Homo sapiens: one gene and its partners. The protein of the gene in region 3 purifies or fractionates together with the protein of the main gene of each other region. This does not show direct contact. Each region holds a gene or a part of one and is shown on either strand. Other genes may lie near its edges.

Region 1 (4,438 bases), on a different chromosome or scaffold from region 3:
ATGAATCCCTGAAAAGGGTACCCATACCAAACATGAGGAAAGAAAGGAGGTGCAATAGGAACTGGGCCTAAGAATGGATTGGGTCCAAAAGATGGCTGGGGGAACATATTCTTGCCACTTAGTGACTCTTCATAATCAGCATGCAGAAGCTGCCCAGGGGTCTCAGATTCAAGATCAGCCTGGTAAGACAATTGTCCATGACTTTCAGACACCTGAGATGGAGGGATAACCAGAGGTGAAGAAAATGTCGGCGGTCCAATCTCTGGCTGTGGCATTTGACCATTAACACTGGCCTCAGTCTGCATAGGAAAGTGGGCATCAGTACAGGTACAATCACTTTCATTCTGAGCAGCAGGAGCCTCTTGGAACCAGGGATTATGAGGATAAACAGGGACAGGGACCTTTGGGTACATCCTGCAGGCTGCCAGGTAGGCCTGGTGCAGAGGGTACAGGTAAGAATGTGGGGCCCACATAGGACAACTGTATGCCTGAAGAGACAAAAAACAGTTAAATAAACAAAAGAGGAGAAAAAAGAGAGGTTTGGGTGGATATCAATCTACAAGTACTAGGGTCAAAATAAGTTTCTCATGCCTACAAAGACCATATAATCTATAGTCCAAATACTAAATCACTGTGATAACCAACGTGAAAATGAATTACAAAATTCACTGCTTTAAGACTCCATTGCTTGCTCCTGTCCTAAAACCAATCTGAAGTCCTCATAGGTTGATAGGAGATAGTATCTCCATCACTGACTGTTTAGCCAGACCTGCATTCACATTCGGGCTCTACCACTAACTCACTGTGTGACCCCATGCAGGCCAGTTAACATCTGAATTTGTTTTACTGGGAATGTCAGTATAAGAGTAGATGATCTCCAATGTCAGGACTCTGCAATTCTAGGAGCCCCCAAGAGTACTCCGAATGTAAGGATTAAGTTAGACCTCTAATCAGGGAGGGATAATGTTGAAAATGAAATATTCCAAATCCTTCCTCTGCAAGAGTTCAGCTAAAAACCAAAATATGAAGAAAGTATAACCAGCTAATTGGCTAACCAATTAAAATCAACATTAAATACATTAAAATTAAGCAATGCAGCAGATAGTAAAATAATCAAGTTTCTTTTTATGAAAGTGGTCAGCAGGCTAAAGGTAGGGCACTTCGTTTCATAGTTTAACTGTCTAGAACCCACAAAAACTAATCTAGGTCAGGAGAAAACCTAACATTTAACAAGGACAGAGTTCTCCAACCTAAGAAAAGCTATTTCTAGGTTGACCACTTCCCAAAGGATACCTCTGCTCTTCTAGTCAACAACCACACTATCTTACATAGGAGGATGTACACGTTATTTCCTTTGATCTTTTCAATAATGGAGGCAAGTAAAGAATATTACCCCCATTCTATAAATGAAAAAAGCTAGGCCCAGATACACTACATGGCTTGCCCAGGGAAATTCAGCTAAAGAGTGATGGAGCAGAACTTCAAGCCCAGATTTACATCTAATTATTCCCCAGCAAGGGCATTTCCACTAGGCTGCCCAAAGATGCAGCTATGTCTTAAATATACTCACAGGTTAAGCCATCACCAGTTAAGACAAAAAAGTAAGTAAAACTGGAGCCTCTACTAGCACCAAAAACAAACGATATAGTACTGAAAATGCTGGTTTTTAAAATGATGAGATTTAGTAAACTTTAGGTTACTGACTGACAGGGTAAGAGTTAACACTAGTAATAATTTAAAACACTATTAATGAATAAAATAACTTTTAAGATGATAAAATGTAAATACCTTCACACCAAGATTGAAGAAGAATCGAAGAATATTCTTATCTAAAAATAAAAGTAATCACTTGTTAAAATTATATATCTGCAGAGATTTTTTTAAATCATCCTCATTAAATATATAGTTCTAAAGACAATTTTACCTACTATAATTGTCTTCTCTAGCCTGTGATACAAAACATAGATAAAAACTGTAATATAACACAACCCAAAAACAGGTTGTTCCCAAAGGTTAATTCCAGATTCAATAGGCTTTGTCTGTTAGCATATAAATCCCAAAATGGCTTAGATTGAAATTTTTATCTCATTAAAACTGAATCTGGGTAAAGGACATTCAGGTGGCTTTCTTTCTCAACTTTTCTGGGGGTTTAAAAATTAGGAAATAAAAATGTTGAGAAGAATGGTAAAATCAACATAAAACCTAACTTATTAGTAGCATCATTTGCAGGATAATATTCTTCCAAGTATTCATATGCCATGAGCCAGTTACTCATAGACACAAACATCAAACTACTAACTAATAAAACAAAAACATCCACATAAATCCAGGTAAACAGCATATAGTAGTCAGTGCATTACTCAAATTTACAGATATAAAATTTTGGAAACTAAAAAGGAGGGAGGTGTAAATTCCTTAAAAATAAAGAGGGAAAGCAAACTTTGAAAGAATTTTTTAAACAAAAATAAGACATACTAAATATAGTACTTTAACAGCCACTACATACTATATTTGCTTTTCTCTGTAACTTTTTCACGGATGCATGTCTGAAATGCAGACCAGTGTTGATAAAGCTCCACAGTGTTTAGGTATCTAATTAGTGAAATTATTATTGTAATTCAGAATGGTTTCAAGTCCATTTATGTAAAAACACAGAAGGAGGTATCATTACTAAGCATACTAGCATTAACAAGTATGCTAGAAACAAAAAAAAATTTTCTGGGCCAGGCGCGGTGGCTCACACCTGTAAACCCAGCACTTCGGGAGGCCAAGGCACGCAGATTACGAGGTCGGGAGATCGAGACCATCCTGGCTAACACGGTGAAACCCCGTCTCTACTAAAAAATACAAAAAATTAGCCAGGCCTGGTGGCATGTGCCTGTAGTCATCCCAGCTACTCAGGATGCTGAAGTGGGAGAATTGTTTGAATCTGGGAGGTGGAGGTTGCAGTGAGCCGAGATCACACCACTGCACTCCAGCCCGGGTGACAGAGCGAGACTCCGTCTCAAAAAAAAAAAAAAAAAAAAATTATAATACATTTTCTAATAAATCAAGCTGAAACAAGAATGACTGACTAATAGCTAAAACTTTGCTGTCCTTCCCATCCTTGAGCTTACTAAGAAACCAGACCTCTGACCTCTACTTACATCTCTTCATTTCTTAACTAAGCTTATTTGGACTTGATAAAGTCGATTTGAACTTGGAGAAGGAGCTCACCTTTAGGTAGGTCCTCCCCAGTCTGACACAGTGAATAAGGTGGTACAATGGCTCGATCTCCCTTTTCATTACAAGGAAACCCAGGATAGAGTGGGTCTTGATAAAGGCTCAATGTCTGAGGCAAAGGCATCAAGGGCTGGTTAACTGCCTGTATTGACACAGGAACTGGAGAGGGTGTTAAATGAGCTTGGGATACAGCTGAATCAGGTCCAGTGGTCAAAGTCTGTGTCACTGACAAAACGGGAATTGGAGCAGGGACACCTACAAAAGAGAAGAAAAGGAATCAAAATGACAAAAGATGAAAATCTCTACAAATATGCTTACATTAACCTATAAAGAATGCTGTATAACTGATAAAGCCAATCTAAAGTAGTACCTTTTAGTATCAACCAAGAGCCCTCCTGGACACCAAGAAGGAAATACGTCCAGGATACAAGCTCTGAGTCAATGTCTTCTAATAGTAGCTCTTGCAGGCACGTGTAGGACATGGGGCTGGTCAAGGGGTTCATTACGGGGCCATAAAGAGCTGGCCCATGAAGGAAGCATCAAACCGTGGTGCTAATTAGTGCTGAGCAACCAAAGCAACCAGCTCAAACATCATGCTCCTGAGACTATGAGGGCATATGTCAGATGAATACAACACCAAATGTACATGGTCTTTCCACATTGGAAGCAGAGCAAAGCAGAGTATCACAGAAAGCTCTGTGAGGCTCCACACACCTAATCCTGCTCAGAGGTCAAACTTCCACTCAAGAATTTGAAGTCTCTGACTAGAAAGGTATTTTGGCTGGCTAGATTTTCTAAACCCTTCTCTAACCTGTTGGTCCAAAAGTTGTAGGTTCACTTGGCCAGGCTGGCACAGTGGCTGGTAAAGAAGGCACCGCAGGAGTTAGATGTACCTCTGGAGAAACTAGAAGGGGAGCTGGATTTGACAAAGACACATGTTCTGCTGGCTTCTTCAAGAAAGGGGTGAGTGGGGGAAGACAGAAAAAGACAAGAGGTCATTTTGCTTTAACACTATTTCTAACCACCAGATACATATTGAGTTGCCTGCCTTTTATACAAATGAAGTACAAATAGCCCTTATAGTCTTAGAAATGTAAGAAAAACACACAGTAGCTAAAGATAATATGCAAACAAATTTGATCCTAACCAAGGGTTGCCTACCAACAAGGACTGTATTTTTTAATACAGACAGGGTTTCACCCTGTTGCCCAGGCTA
Region 2 (4,438 bases), on a different chromosome or scaffold from region 3:
AGAAGGGAAAGCCCTTGCATTTGGCTCTTCAGTCACTGCAAGAACTTAAGATCCCTCCAAAGAAAAATAAAAGGAGGGAAGAAAATGCAAGGGAAGAGAAAAATCTTTGTTCCTCTCCGTCCTCACAATACAATGGAGTGGGTGTGGCCACTCCCCTCTGCAGCTTGAAAAGGTTAAGTCCTATGATTAGTCATGACTAAGAGAGATATATAAGTCTATAAGGTGTATATATATGACTAAGATATATATATCCATAAGGTGTATGTATGTGTATGCATATGTATAGACATATATATACACGTCTATGTATAGACATATATGTATGTACATATGTCTATGTATAGATATATATGTATGTCTATACATAGACATATATATGTCTATATACACACACAGATACACCTTATGGATATATATATATCTCAGTCTCATATATACACCTTATAGATTTATATATGTATACACATACATGTATATATGTGTATATACACATACATGTATATACACACATATACATATATACATATATGTGTATATATATACACACATACACACACATGTACACACAGGTACACACACATAGATACACCTTATGGATAGCCACCAAATATATATGCCATGTACCAAATCATGCAATTGATTTCACTAAATGTACTTTTTATCAAATGAATACTGATACTTATAAAATGGAGTGAATATCTTTTGTTAAATTGCCTTTGAAACTGCCAATTAAATTCATTTTGTTTGGCAGTATCATTTTTAAAAAAAAAACATAATAAACATAGTGCCTGAATTGCCTATCTAGTCAGCTATTTACAATAAGGTTCCCCACTCATAGATGAAAATGAGATCATTGTCCCAGTGAAAAAGGAACAACCTCAAAGCATCTTATCCTCACTTAAGCTCAATCTTACCTTCAGCATATTAATTCCCAGAACTATGTTCTTCTCCAAATTCTACGAAATCAGGGCTACTGATTTCTTCAGGAGACATCAAAAATTTGGAGAGCTAAGCTTCTGCCAGTTGGCAAAAGCAGCTTTCAATCAGCTACCTGAATTATTTTAGGAGGCTGGAGGCATCACTATTTCCAAAAGCCATACTGCTAAATCAACAGGAAGATTACAGGCTTTTGGAATCAAGTTCTCAGACTGTGGTCTTCAGTTTTTCTTGAAAGCTGCTTATAAAAGAAGGACTGTGTGAAACTTTGATATTTACATCAAGTCACAACTAAGGGGCAGGTTTGCAAAATCAATTGTGCAGCTTTTATACTCACTGCACATTTACCACATATGTCCTTTATTACACAGTGGAAAACCATTAAATGCACAGTAGTTTTGCCAAGTGGCATTATGCATTTAACAGCTTTATTCGTTTAACAGCTCCAACTCTCATTATATTTTGCCATGTGGTACATGGGATTTTATGCATTTAACAGTTTAAGAAGGCTCTATGGTATTTTCTTTTCATGTATTTCATACTATGGTTGGACATTATGTCTTAGCAAACTGTATTTCACTGATTTCATTGAAGAGAGAAAGTCAGAGTAATCTGGAAAACTTACTACACTGAAATTGAAAAGGGAAACAAACATTTCAATCCCTTTCCAAGTTCCTTGATATTCTACTCCCCTCCTTTTATCAACATCTAAAAATAACCTATATCAGGTTAAAACTGCAGGTAAAGAAGGCTAACCCTGTACTCTATAATTAATCTAAATATAACATTTAACTACAGTTTGAAGTTTTTCAGTTTTAAAAATTTAATTTTTATTGAAAACCTTCTTGCTTAATAGAAATACAATACTCAGTCACTTCCTTTCTTTATAGCACACAACAGAAGATTTGTTAGGGAGATGATCAACCATTTGATTATTTACATATGTAGGGATGAAAACATTTGTCATATAAGGACACAGAGGAAATCAAGCTCAGAATCAAAGGACTCTCAAAATTATGCTTTAACTAACTTTTATTTCCTCCACTCTGCATTAGGTGTTCGCCCTAGGTATACATAAGTGAGCATGCACCTCAAACCTAGGATTCTAGGTTTGGGCAGAAGTTGTCCCTTTAAATGAAGAATTGAAGCAGATAGTAGATCCCATCAACTGTTGCTGCTTTCAGAAATAAAAAACCTAAGCATCTGTCTGCTCTTTTCCCCAGAGCATTACATTCTCCACAATCCCAGAACTCTGAAAAATTTTACTGGATAAGCTTCTGTGTTTTTCTGTTAAAAGATTTTAGCACTTACTCTGCACTCCCCCCACGTGTGTTTTCTCCTGAAAAAATCAACTGTATTCTGTACATAAAAGAAACACCTGACATCAAAAGGTGTCTCTGGGGCTGGGGAAAAGTGGTTATTATAACAGAGTTGGACATTCCCCTTGTGGGAACAGGAAAGGTGATGAGACTTGGCTAAAACTTGGTCTCAGAAAGGTGCTGTTATATACATTCTAAGTTTTGTTCATACACACACACACACACACACACACACACACACATATATAAAGGGAGAGAAACAAAAGGGTACATTGCAGTGTTTAGAATAAGGAGAGAAATCATTCGAGGCTAATTTTTTTTAATCTTTAAAAGAAAAAAGGTCAAGTTTTGGCTTCATCTCTATTTTGAACTCCAATGGGAATAAAAGCAAACTAGAGTAAAAGGCAGAACATGACAGGTTTCTTGGGGGTTATTACTGTTATTATTATTATAGGAACAGATGTATTTTTATTGGTGGAGGAAGGAGAAGGATCTAATTCCAGCCCTCGATTTTGCTTTTTTAAAAACCACTCACCTGACTTTTATTTGCAGCCACTTTGGCAAACAGGGCTTGAGACACCTTGGCCCTTTTCATCTCCTGTTGGATCTCGTCATAAATGGCAGCTGTGATGTTGATGTTGGCGCCGTCCACCTTAATAGGGAGGTCTGTTGTCGGTGTCGAGGTTTTGGCCTACCAAGAGACCATGAAAATAATAATTTAAAAAGTGCTGCATTCAGCCCAGCCATCTGTGCAGAAATTATCAAAGGATTTCAGTCAGCTGATGCCAAACTGCATTAGCTACAGAGGGACACTTCCTGTCCATTATTCTAATCAGGTTAATTGTGATTGGAAATAATTGCAGTGCATTCCTATAGGACATGCAGAATCCTGTCAACCCTGTTCTCTCACAGCATCCCAGACGAAGGTTCACAGGTAGGATGGCTCTCCTAGACACCAAACTATAAGCAACCATCTAACTACAAAACAAACATGCAGAACACACACACAGTTAACCTTTTCTTTCTAAAAATGGCACACCTTGGAATAAGAGCCAATTCTTCCAGAAAAAAAATAAGTAAATGGGTAGAGGTCTCTAAATAATAAATTATTACTCAATTTAATGCACTCCCAAGTCTCTCTTATTCTTTATTAAAGCTTTACATATGTCATTCGAGTATGTATGGTTTCCCATCATTATCATCATTATGCTACCCAGACAGTCACCTAATTTCACCTAGGAAATCAGTGGAAATGAAACAAAATTTCATTTCATAAAACTAGGCTTCACAATGCCTTTGATGTGCCGTTTTCATTTTCTTAAACTCATATTGCGGTTTTATGTATTCTGCAGTGCTCGTTTTAATTGAATGATTTCCCATCAGCTTCAGAGACAAATGAAGGACAATATAGAAGTCTGTACTTCTTGGGGTTAGGATAACCCTAAAATGTCTGAATCTACTTAATCCAAAAGACGGTCATAACATTTACTTGGTGTGAGCCCTAGAATGCATTGCTGGTGTCTAATAAGAGAGGGCTGAGACATTTTCTTAGAACCTCTGGCAGCAAGATTTCAGGAAAAGACATCCTTGATCCTTGTGCACTACCAGCCGAATTGGCCTAACCTGGGTTTTTTCTCTTTGTCCCCATTCACCCTAGAATCTCAAACCAACAGAGTTATCTCCAAATCACAAGTTTCCCTGTGCGGATGCCCTGAGCTGTTCTCTACTGGATCCAGCAGTATGCAGGTCCAGAGAAAGATGTAACAGGCAGTGTGGACTCTGTGACAAATGGTGTCTAGCGGCAGAACTTAAGGCCCTACGTTTCCATAAAGGCTTTGCTTCCTAACAGTGCTCAGTAACTTCTGCCATTTTTCTTCTACCTCCTTCTCTCATACTATTTTCTAATTACCGCAAAGCAATAATTACTATAATTTATGGCGTGCTTTTTATGGGCCAGGTACTCCAGAAAGCATTTTAACATTTGTTTTCACATTTAATTCTTTTAAGATTCCAATGAGTTAGATATTATTATTTTCATCTTACAGATGAAGAAACTGAAATAAAAGAGGATCTTAACCTAGGACACCCAGCAGCCAGTGAAGGAACCATGATCTGAACGCAAGTCTTTCAGGCTCAAAAACATGGGCTCAGGACACTGCACTACACACTGCCTCCAAAATCTC
Region 3 (5,944 bases):
TTTACAGCTGGGGACACTGAGCCCAGGGGTCCCTGCGCCCACTGTGCTCCCACGTCAGGGCCAGGCTGATGGCTGCAGCAATGGGGGCGACTCCCCGGCTGGAGAGGGGCCAACACCCCCGCCCCCAATTTCCTGACCTCCCCACTCCCCCACGTGCAGGCAGACCACTGGACTAGGGCACGCGGGGGCCGCCCGCCTTGTGCTGAAAAAGGAGGCCCAGACTTTCGCAGTCTAGTAGTAAAATCCTGAAACCCAGGGATGGAGCCCTCCCCACTTTCTGGGTGGACCCCAAACGCCTTCCTTTAGAAAGATCATCCACTCCTCTCGGGGGCTGAGTGAGCCCAGGCGTCCAGGAGCCCCCAGTCTGTACAGCAGGGAGCTGAAGGCTGGGAGAGAGGGGTGGAGTCGGGGGTCTTGCTGAGGCCCCCTCCCCCAGTGCCTGGCACCTCCACCCGCACCTCACTGGCACAAGCGCCCCGCAGCACGGAGAGGGGGCGGCCCTCCCGGGGCCCGCCTGGGACGCTGCTGGGTGTCTGTGGGGGGTGGGCCCCAGGGCACCCGGCAGCAGCCGCTCCCCCGTCGCCACGGCAATGCCGCGGTCATGCCTGGCCAGGGCTATTTCTGTCCAGGAGACATGCTGTCCTGCCCCACTGAGTCACCCCCCGCGCTCCCTGCCCACCCCACTCAGGCCTGGCCTGCAGCTTCTGTGCCACATAGTTCAGGCATCGGCCCTGCCAGCCGCCTGCCCAGACGGACTCTCCCCAGGACGGGTCATCCCGGGCCACCCGAACCCAAGGGACCCAAAGGCACCCTTCCCGGGCCGTTCACCCACCCCTCAGCCTCCCTCCACCCTGCTCTGTGCGTGGGGAGGCTCTGGGACCTGCCCTCAAGGGGGACTGTCAGGAACATGCCTCTCTTTTTAGGGGGCAGTTCTGCTGGCGTCGGGGGGCACTGAGGGGCACAGGGTTCCCTGTGTCTAGGCCTCAGGGACGCTCTGGATACTTCTGAGCTCCATGGGTGCCCATTTCACGGGCATGGGAGGCTGAGGCTCAGACCCAGGGCACAGCAGAGTGTGGGCGTCCGCCCGTCTTTCTCTGCAAGCCCCAGGAGCACACTGTCCCACTGGGACACATCTGCAGAGCTGTGTTCTCGCCGCCCAGGGCACAGCCACGCTGAGCCGGCTCGGTCGGATGCAGGTGCCATAGTCACAGGCGCTCAGGTCTTCACACCCCATCTGTGTCACCACAGCCAACAGGGTGAAGATGGCTGTCCCCAGAGGGGGCCGCTGGGCCTAGTGGGTGCCGCTGCCAAGGGTGAGCTGTCACCGCCCAGGGCCACCTGGAGGGGGGAGCCTGGAACCGGCTACAGCTGGTGCGGTCCCCACCACAGCCCTCCCCAGCCCGTTGCCCGCAGCCTGGCACACGAAGCTCCCACAGGGGGGACCCCTTGGTCTCCCCTCACCTCCTGTCCTCCTTTCCTCCTCGGTCTTTAGCATGGGGGTGCTGAGGGCCAGGCCAAGCTGAGGGGCTGCGGGGAGAGCGGGACCCCAGGTCGCACACAAATCTGCCGAGGGGACTGAGCCAGCTCGGGGCCCCTCCCCGCCCACAGCCTGCTTTCAGGCAAGGCCGCCACAATTCTCCTGCCACGTCCAGCACCTCCCACAACAGGGGCCGGCTTGTGGAGGAAGGACCTGTGGGGAATGGCCGCGTGTCCGTGTCCAGAGGCCCAGGGTCGGAGCGGGACAAGGCCAAGGTGCTGTGTGGGCTTGGCCTGGGGCCCACAGAGAATGGAGCCCCCGCCCGCTGAGGCCTGGGAGGCCTAGAAGTCATTCCCGCGAGTCGTCCGGCCCAGTCCTTATCCGCTGAGAGGCGGGGCTGGTGCGGGGCCTCCCCAGGGGTGTCATGAGGGAATGAAGAGACCCCACGGAGCCTGGGGAGGCTGCGCTCCTGGGCTCCATCCAGCCTGGCTTCCCCGCCAGCAGCATGAGGGCTGTGCGTCACCCGGTGGCTTGGTGGCCATGGGGGCCCCGTGCAGCATGGAGGCCCTGGTCTGGGCCCCGAACACGGGCCTCGGCCTACAGCCCCCCCGCCGGGCCCGCCCAGCCACAGCTTCCATCTGCCTGCTTCTCCTCAGGGCGCCGCACCCCAGGCGGGCAGCAGGCTTGGTTTCCCGATGGAGGAGAGCTGCGTGCCCACGGCACCATCCCCCAACCCAGCCGGCCAAGACGCCGGGCCCCAGCCCCGCTCATGGGCACGGGGCTGGCAGGAGGACCCTGGGGCCGCGAGGCAGGCTTCGCAGTGGACACAGGGGCCCTGCCAGGATCCTGTCCAGGGCTCGGCGGAGCTGGCCTCTCGGCCTGTTGCTCTTGGACAGCCCAGAGGAAGCCACGGGCGCCCAGGCGGGCATGAAAGGGCTCTTTGACGGCTGGGTTGCTGGGACAGTAACACAGACGGCCGGCCAGGCAGGGAGCATCCCTGAGACGGTAACAGGAAGCACAGGGCCTGGGGCTGGTTGTGGGAGTCTTCACAGCCGCCCTGGGCAGGTCGGGCTCCCCCTGAACCCCAGCGGAGCATGATCCAGCCCTGATTGTCTGCCAGGCAGGGCCAGGGGCTGGGACGGCCGGGAACTCCGTGGGGGCTCCTGCAGGCCTCCGTGCATGCACACACCCACTCCTGCCAGGCTCCCTCTGCCGGAGGAGTCCAGGGGGGCTCTTGTGGTGTCCAGTGGGGCCAGGGGGTGAGTCAGGGTCTGCTGAGCTCATGGGGAGGCAGGCAGAGGGTGTCTCAACTGCCAGAGACATTCCACCCACCTGGAATGACCCACTGCAGGAGGAAGGACCTTGCCCTGTGCTACAATCCCAGAGGGCTTCCTGAAGGAGGCAGCCTAGATCTTTGTCCAGCAGAGCCCATCTTCAGGGAATATTGAGGATCCCGACCCGTGCACCTGCCCTAGCGGAAGACACTCCTGGCCAAGCCTCCAGATGTGGCTGTGAGGGGAGTGGGGTAGGCAAGGCCCACCTGGCAGGGGGGCCAGGCTTGTTGGGGCAGCTGCTGTTGGGAGGGGGCCTACCTTGCTCAGGGGGACCCAGGTTGGCTCTGGCTTCCCCTCGGCACCAAGGTGGGACCATCCTTCCCTAGTCTGGGGGAGGCAGAGGAGTGGCCTCCCGAGGCCCCTGCAGGCCCTGCCCTGGGGGCTCCGGACGAGAGGCTCTCTGGGCCTGGCTGAGACGGTGCCTCTGTGCACTGTGCAGGGCCCCCCACCCCAGGCCAGCCTTGGGGGGCCTTTCCCTGGAGCAGACCAGCCACCACGCCCCAGGGCTCTGCCCAGCCACAGTGGGTGGGGCCTTGGGCGGCTACCCGCTCCTGAGTTTAGAGGGCTGTCTCAGAGACCTCTGTGTCCCACAACGGCTTCCCCACCATCTGCCGGGTGTGGGGGCCCCAGCTTTGGGGACCAGGACTCCCCGACTCCAGGTGTGCAGGGTGCCTGGTGCGGCCCAGAGTGTAGCAGCCCCTGAGCCTCGGCCTTGGCCTCACCCACTGGGCCAGGACCGTCCGTGCCCAGGCAGAAGCTCCCGCCTCCACTGGCTGTATTCCCAACGGGGGCAGGGCCGGGCTGCCGTAGGGTCTGGGGGCTCCAGCTGGGGCACCTCCTTCTCAGTCCCTCCCCTCTTTCCTCTCCCCCAGCCCTGGCCAAGATGGCAGCCCCCGCCCTGCTGCTCCTAGCACTGCTGCTGCCCGTGGGGGCCTGGCCCGGGCTGCCCAGGAGGCCCTGTGTGCACTGCTGCCGCCCGGCCTGGCCCCCTGGACCCTATGCCCGGGTGAGTGACAGGGACCTGTGGAGGGGGGACCTGTGGAGGGGGCTGCCTCGAGTACGGCCCACTATAGACATCGAAATCCTCAAAGGTGAGGCCCGTGGGTGCTGCCTGCATGCTCCCCCACCAGGACCCAACAGCCCACAGGGAGTGGGGAGCACCTGGGGCTTGGGAGGAGGGGCGGGAGGGGCACGCTGAGCACCAGTGTCTGCCCTGGCAGCGCTCCCTGCACAGGGACCCCTGGGCTCCCCCCGCAAGCAGGAAGAAGCCTGGCTTGGGGAGGGACCCATGAACCAAAGTGGGGTGCTGAGGATCCTGGGGAAGGGGGCCAGGGTTCCTGAGATCCCCAAAGTAGCAGCCCCTTGGGAAGGGAGCCTGGGCAGCCCGCTTGCTCTGAGACCCCTTGACACGGCTGCGCTGTCCCGAAGGCTGTACTAAGGTTAGGCTTGGGTAGGACCTTCCCAGCCTTCTCATTCTTTAACACCCAACGCAGACCGTAGCTGGCCCTGACCACCCATGTCCCCACCCTCTCGGTGGGGACGGCCTTGCCACAGGCCTTGGTCTAGCCACACCTTTGGAGAACGGCTTCTCCCCATCTTACAGACGTGGACGCGGAGACTGGGAGAGGGGCCGTCACTTGCAAAGAGTGTGTCCTTACAGTGACCCTTGAGCCCCAGCCCCTGGCCTGGGTGCTGGAATGGGGGAGGCCTGCCCAGCCCGGCCCCGACCCGTGGCTTTCGTTTGTCCCCTGCAGGTGAGAAGGGTGAGGCCGGCGTCCGAGGTCGGGCCGGCAGGAGCGGGAAAGAGGGGCCGCCAGGCGCCCGGGGCCTGCAGGGCCGCAGAGGCCAGAAGGGGCAGGTGGGGCCGCCGGGCGCCGCGTGCCGACGTGCCTACGCCGCCTTCTCCGTGGGCCGGCGCGAGGGCCTGCACAGCTCCGACCACTTCCAGGCGGTGCCCTTCGACACGGAGCTGGTGAACCTGGACGGCGCCTTCGACCTGGCCGCGGGCCGCTTCCTCTGCACGGTGCCCGGCGTCTACTTCCTCAGCCTCAACGTGCACACCTGGAACTACAAGGAGACCTACCTGCACATCATGCTGAACCGGCGGCCCGCGGCCGTGCTCTACGCGCAGCCCAGCGAGCGCAGCGTCATGCAGGCCCAGAGCCTGATGCTGCTGCTGGCGGCGGGCGACGCCGTCTGGGTGCGCATGTTCCAGCGCGACCGGGACAACGCCATCTACGGCGAGCACGGAGACCTCTACATCACCTTCAGCGGCCACCTGGTCAAGCCGGCCGCCGAGCTGTAGCCGGGTGAGGGGCCCCGCGGCTGAGCACCGGGCGCGCGCGCGCGTGTGTGTGTGTGTCTGTGTGTGTGTGTGTGGGGGTGGGTGTGGGTGTGTGTGTGTGGGTGGGTGTGGGTGTGGTGGGGTGGGCGGGCAGCGGAGCTTCAGCGCCGACTGTGTGCAGTGATTTGTTGAGCGCTGACTGTGTGCAGGGATTGGTTGAGCGCCGACTGTGTGCAGTGATTTGTTGAGCGCCGACTGTGTGCAGGGATTGGTTGAGCGCCGACTGTGTGCTGTGATTGGTTGAGCGCCGACTGTGTGCTGTGATTGGTTGAGCGCCGACTGTGTGCAGGGATTGATTGAGCGCCGACTGTGTGCTGTGATTTGTTGAGCACCGACTGTGTGCAGGGATTGGTTGAGCGCCGACTGTGTGCTGTGATTGGTTGAGCGCCGACTGTGTGCAGTGATTGGTTGAGCGCCGACTGTGTGCAGGGATTGGTTGAGCGCCGACTGTGTGCAGGGATTGATTGAGCGCCGACTGTGTGCAGGGATTGGTTGAGCGCCGACTGTGTGCTGTGATTGGTTGAGCGCCGACTGTGTGCAGTGATTTGTTGAGCGCCGACTGTGTGCAGGGATTGGTTGAGCGCCGACTGTGTGCAGGGATTGATTGAGCGCCGACTGTGTGCTGTGATTGGTTGAGCGCCGACTGTGTGCAGGGATTGGTTGAGTGCCGACTGTGTGCTGTGATTGGTTGAGCGCCGACTGTGTGCTGTGATTGGTTGAGCGCCGACTGTGTGCTGTGATTGGTTGAGCGCCGACTGTGTGCAGGGATTGGTTGAGCGCCGACTGTGT
Region 4 (3,119 bases), on a different chromosome or scaffold from region 3:
TCTAGAATCCAGGGATCTGAACAGACTGGGTGGAATCATGATATGGGGTATTTAAGGCAGGTATGGAATAGAACGTGTTTGTGCAGCGGGTAGGGCTGGGGGGAGTATTAGCTTCCCCTCCCCCTCATCATTCTGGTTTGTGCTGTGTGGGGGTGTCTGCTAGAAGGGTGGGGCAAGACAAACAGCCAAGTCTGTATCTATCCCTCTATCCCCAGTTCACAGAGACCTCACAAAGGTCCCCTACTGGAAACCCCTAAAAGATCTCCTGAGAACCCACCAGGCATTCTAGGGAGACAGGAATGTGGAACCCACATCCTTACAGGTATGACTGATATGGTATTGTGCCTCTGGAAGGCATGGCTGCCGTTCAGCGTTACAGACTCTGGATGAGGCCTAGACCAGCCAACGGCTGGGAATGATTACTGCGGGATTAGGGAGGCCTGGCTCCAGCCAGTCTGGGAGAGACCCCCAAGAAGGGAGGCCCTGGAGGAGCTCTCCCCACCCCCCCAGGTTCTTCCTCACAGAGAGCAGCTTTCCAGCAGCCTTGCTCCGGATGTTTCAGGAGACATTTGTGACCAGAGTTCTCACACTCCAGAGACCACAGACCCCTCCATCGGCCCCAGAAGCCCCTTCATAGGTTGAAAGGAAGAGCCTGACAAGGCAGCCCTGCTTCCAAACGGAGCAGGAAACCTTCCCCCAACCCTTACAAAAGGATTCTCCCCAGCCCCCTCAGAACATATTGCATTCTCACGACTCTTTCAGGCAAATCCAAAGGGAAACTGGGACTTTGGGATATCAGAGGACGAGAGATGAGAAGGTGTCATCATTTAGGAATACTTCTGACAGTCCCTCTGGGTCACCTATTTTACAGTCTCCTCCACGGCTTGTTAAAAATGAGGATTACTGTACCCGTCCTCAAATCCAGAATGAGAAATGTACGTGGTGGAGGATGGGGGGAGAATGGGGCCTAGTTTCTGCATTTTTCACAAGTCCCCAGGAGTTCTGGCACGCATTAGCATATGAGAAACACGGAGAGGGTACAGGAGGGAGATGGATGGGGGTGGACAGAATATGTTGAGTCTAAGTCCACTTGAGAGGTGAGTGGCTCACATCACAGAGGAATGGCCAGTCAGGCAGGGCACTGGGCTCATGTGGCCCAGTGATGAGTACCTGTGCCAGGAATCACTCGAGATCCTCAGGGAAGTTAGGTATGAGGACAGATCATCTTGTCTTCCCTAGGCCAAGAAGAGATGTAAATGGAAGGTGGGGTGTGAAGGCCCTTTAATGTCCCTGCTTCCTTGGAAGCCCACCGCTCAAAGGCTGCAAGCAGTGGGAGGGGACCCGTCCATTCCCAATCCCGAAAGGGAAATTCAGCTACGGACTGGGGAGACACCTGGTGGATGAATAAGAAAAAGCACAGAAACAAAGGCAATGGAAAAATTTTTTAGTAAAACTGGAAAAGGCTCTATAAAATGTCCTGACTCCAGCAGTCTTGAGGCAGCACACAATGGCATCAGTGTCTAGGTGGCAGGCACTCCGGGCTGACAGCTTCCTTCTATGGCTCTATGACCAAGCAACCCAGCCCGAGGCAGCTCCCACCAGTGAGGCCCTGATATTGCAGGGCTAAGCACCTAGGATCCAATTCTAGTACATGCCACCTCATGCTAGGCTCTACAAAGTGGGGAGCAGAGGAGCTTGGTACCCACTGTATCACCCTTTGACTTTGAAAGCCTAGGCTGGAGTTTCGCATGAAGTCCCCGATTCCCCTCCAGGTTCATGCGGCCTGACCTCACTGCCTTGAATCTGACCTGCTCATTCCTACCTCAGGGCTTGGATTTCCTTTTCTCTCTGCCTGGGTCCCCTTCGCCGGATGTTCACGTGGCTCTCTCCTTCTAGTTGTTTAGGCCCCAGCTCACATGCCCTCGGCTCAGAGACACCTTTTCAGACCACTTATCTACACTAGCCTGCCAGCACTCTATCGCATTTCTATTTTCTTTACAGCATTTTTCACTAAAACTAGGTTTTCTGCTAATTTGTTCATTGCTTGCTTGTCTCTTCCGCCAGAATGCATGCAGGCAGGGACTTTATCTCTCTTTTCAGTGCTGTATATACAGGACCTCAAACAAAGCCTGAGCAACACAGTAGTTTCTCAGTAGTCTGCTACATTGAATTTTCTCACTATGGAAACCTGCTCTAGGTTAGGCCCCTCAGACTGAGAAGGGCACACAGCTCAGGACCACAGGATAGAGGAGCCCTTGCAGAGTTTTATGCTCCAGCCTATCCTATCAGGCTCATTTCAGTGACCAGCTCTGCACGGCCTTCACTTTGAACGCTTGGAGGTGTCTGGCTGGTCGGGAGTGGGGGCCTGGCCTGAGCAAATCTCAGAGTTCTGTGTCGTAGCCCCCTTTTTGCCAGAAGAGGGCTTTTTGGCCACTGGTCCAGTGTCATCCTTGATCTTCTTGAGCCGGGCCTTGTTCTTTGGTGGAATGGAGAAGGTGAGGGAGTTCTTGTTGAACTCAAGCGGGAAGACACCTACATCTCCATCAAAGCGGTTCTTGGACACCTGCAGATACCGTTTCCCTGGCCCGGTTACCAGCTTCCTGTCCTGCAGGATCAGAACATTGTCTGCTTCCTGGCTTGCCTGGGGAACAGGGGGCAGAAGGAGGAAAGCAGGAGTAAGAGGACATGAGCAAAGCAGAAAGGGGGGCTGACAGGGCAGGGAGGAGTGATAAGAATGGGGAGAGGGGCTGGGTACAATGGCTCACGCCTGTAATCCCAGAACTTTGGGAGGCCGAGTCGAGTGGATCACGATGTCAGGAAATCAAGACCATCCTGGCTAACACGGTGAAACCCCATCTCTACTAAAAATACAAAAAATTAGCTGGGCATGGTGGCATGCACCTATAGTCCCAGCTTCTTGGGAGGCTGAGGCAGGAGAATCGCTTGAATCCGGGAGGCGGAGGTTGCAGTGAGCCAAGATTGTGCCACTGCACTCCAGCCTGGGCAACAGAGCGAGACTCCGTCTCAAAAAAGAAAAAAAAAAAGAGAAAGAATGGGAGAGGGAAAAGTACTTCCCCCCATGACCAAAGCTCTTTGAACTACTGACCACGATGCTGGGG

What was found. The genes of interacting proteins can lie anywhere in the genome.
Region 1: the proteins of C1QTNF8 (region 3) and OTUD4 purify together in Homo sapiens (affinity purification with mass spectrometry; one large-scale study listed by BioGRID and IntAct). This does not show direct contact.
Region 2: the proteins of C1QTNF8 (region 3) and SATB2 purify together in Homo sapiens (affinity purification with mass spectrometry; one large-scale study listed by BioGRID and IntAct). This does not show direct contact.
Region 4: the proteins of C1QTNF8 (region 3) and TWNK purify together in Homo sapiens (affinity purification with mass spectrometry; one large-scale study listed by BioGRID and IntAct). This does not show direct contact.

What each region holds. Positions count from the first base shown.
Region 1 is NC_000004.12:145,138,163-145,142,600, forward strand, and holds part of OTUD4 (OTU domain-containing protein 4), read right to left. Parts: intron 4,173-4,438; coding exon 4,034-4,172; intron 3,478-4,033; coding exon 3,217-3,477; intron 1,830-3,216; coding exon 1,789-1,829; intron 489-1,788; coding exon 1-488.
Region 2 is NC_000002.12:199,321,013-199,325,450, forward strand, and holds part of SATB2 (DNA-binding protein SATB2), read right to left. Parts: intron 2,947-4,438; coding exon 2,791-2,946; intron 1-2,790. UniProt on the Homo sapiens protein: Binds to DNA, at nuclear matrix- or scaffold-associated regions. Thought to recognize the sugar-phosphate structure of double-stranded DNA.
Region 3 is NC_000016.10:1,092,673-1,098,616, reverse strand, and holds the start of C1QTNF8 (complement C1q tumor necrosis factor-related protein 8 precursor), read left to right. Parts: upstream 1-2,372; 5' UTR 2,373-2,461; exon of another isoform or gene 2,462-2,828; 5' UTR 2,829-3,002; intron 3,003-3,683; 5' UTR 3,684-3,694; coding exon 3,695-3,902; intron 3,903-4,565; coding exon 4,566-5,116; 3' UTR 5,117-5,120; exon of another isoform or gene 5,121-5,494; intron 5,495-5,944.
Region 4 is NC_000010.11:100,992,712-100,995,830, reverse strand, and holds the end of TWNK (twinkle mtDNA helicase), read right to left. Parts: intron 2,642-3,119; coding exon 2,321-2,641; 3' UTR 1,428-2,320; downstream 1-1,427.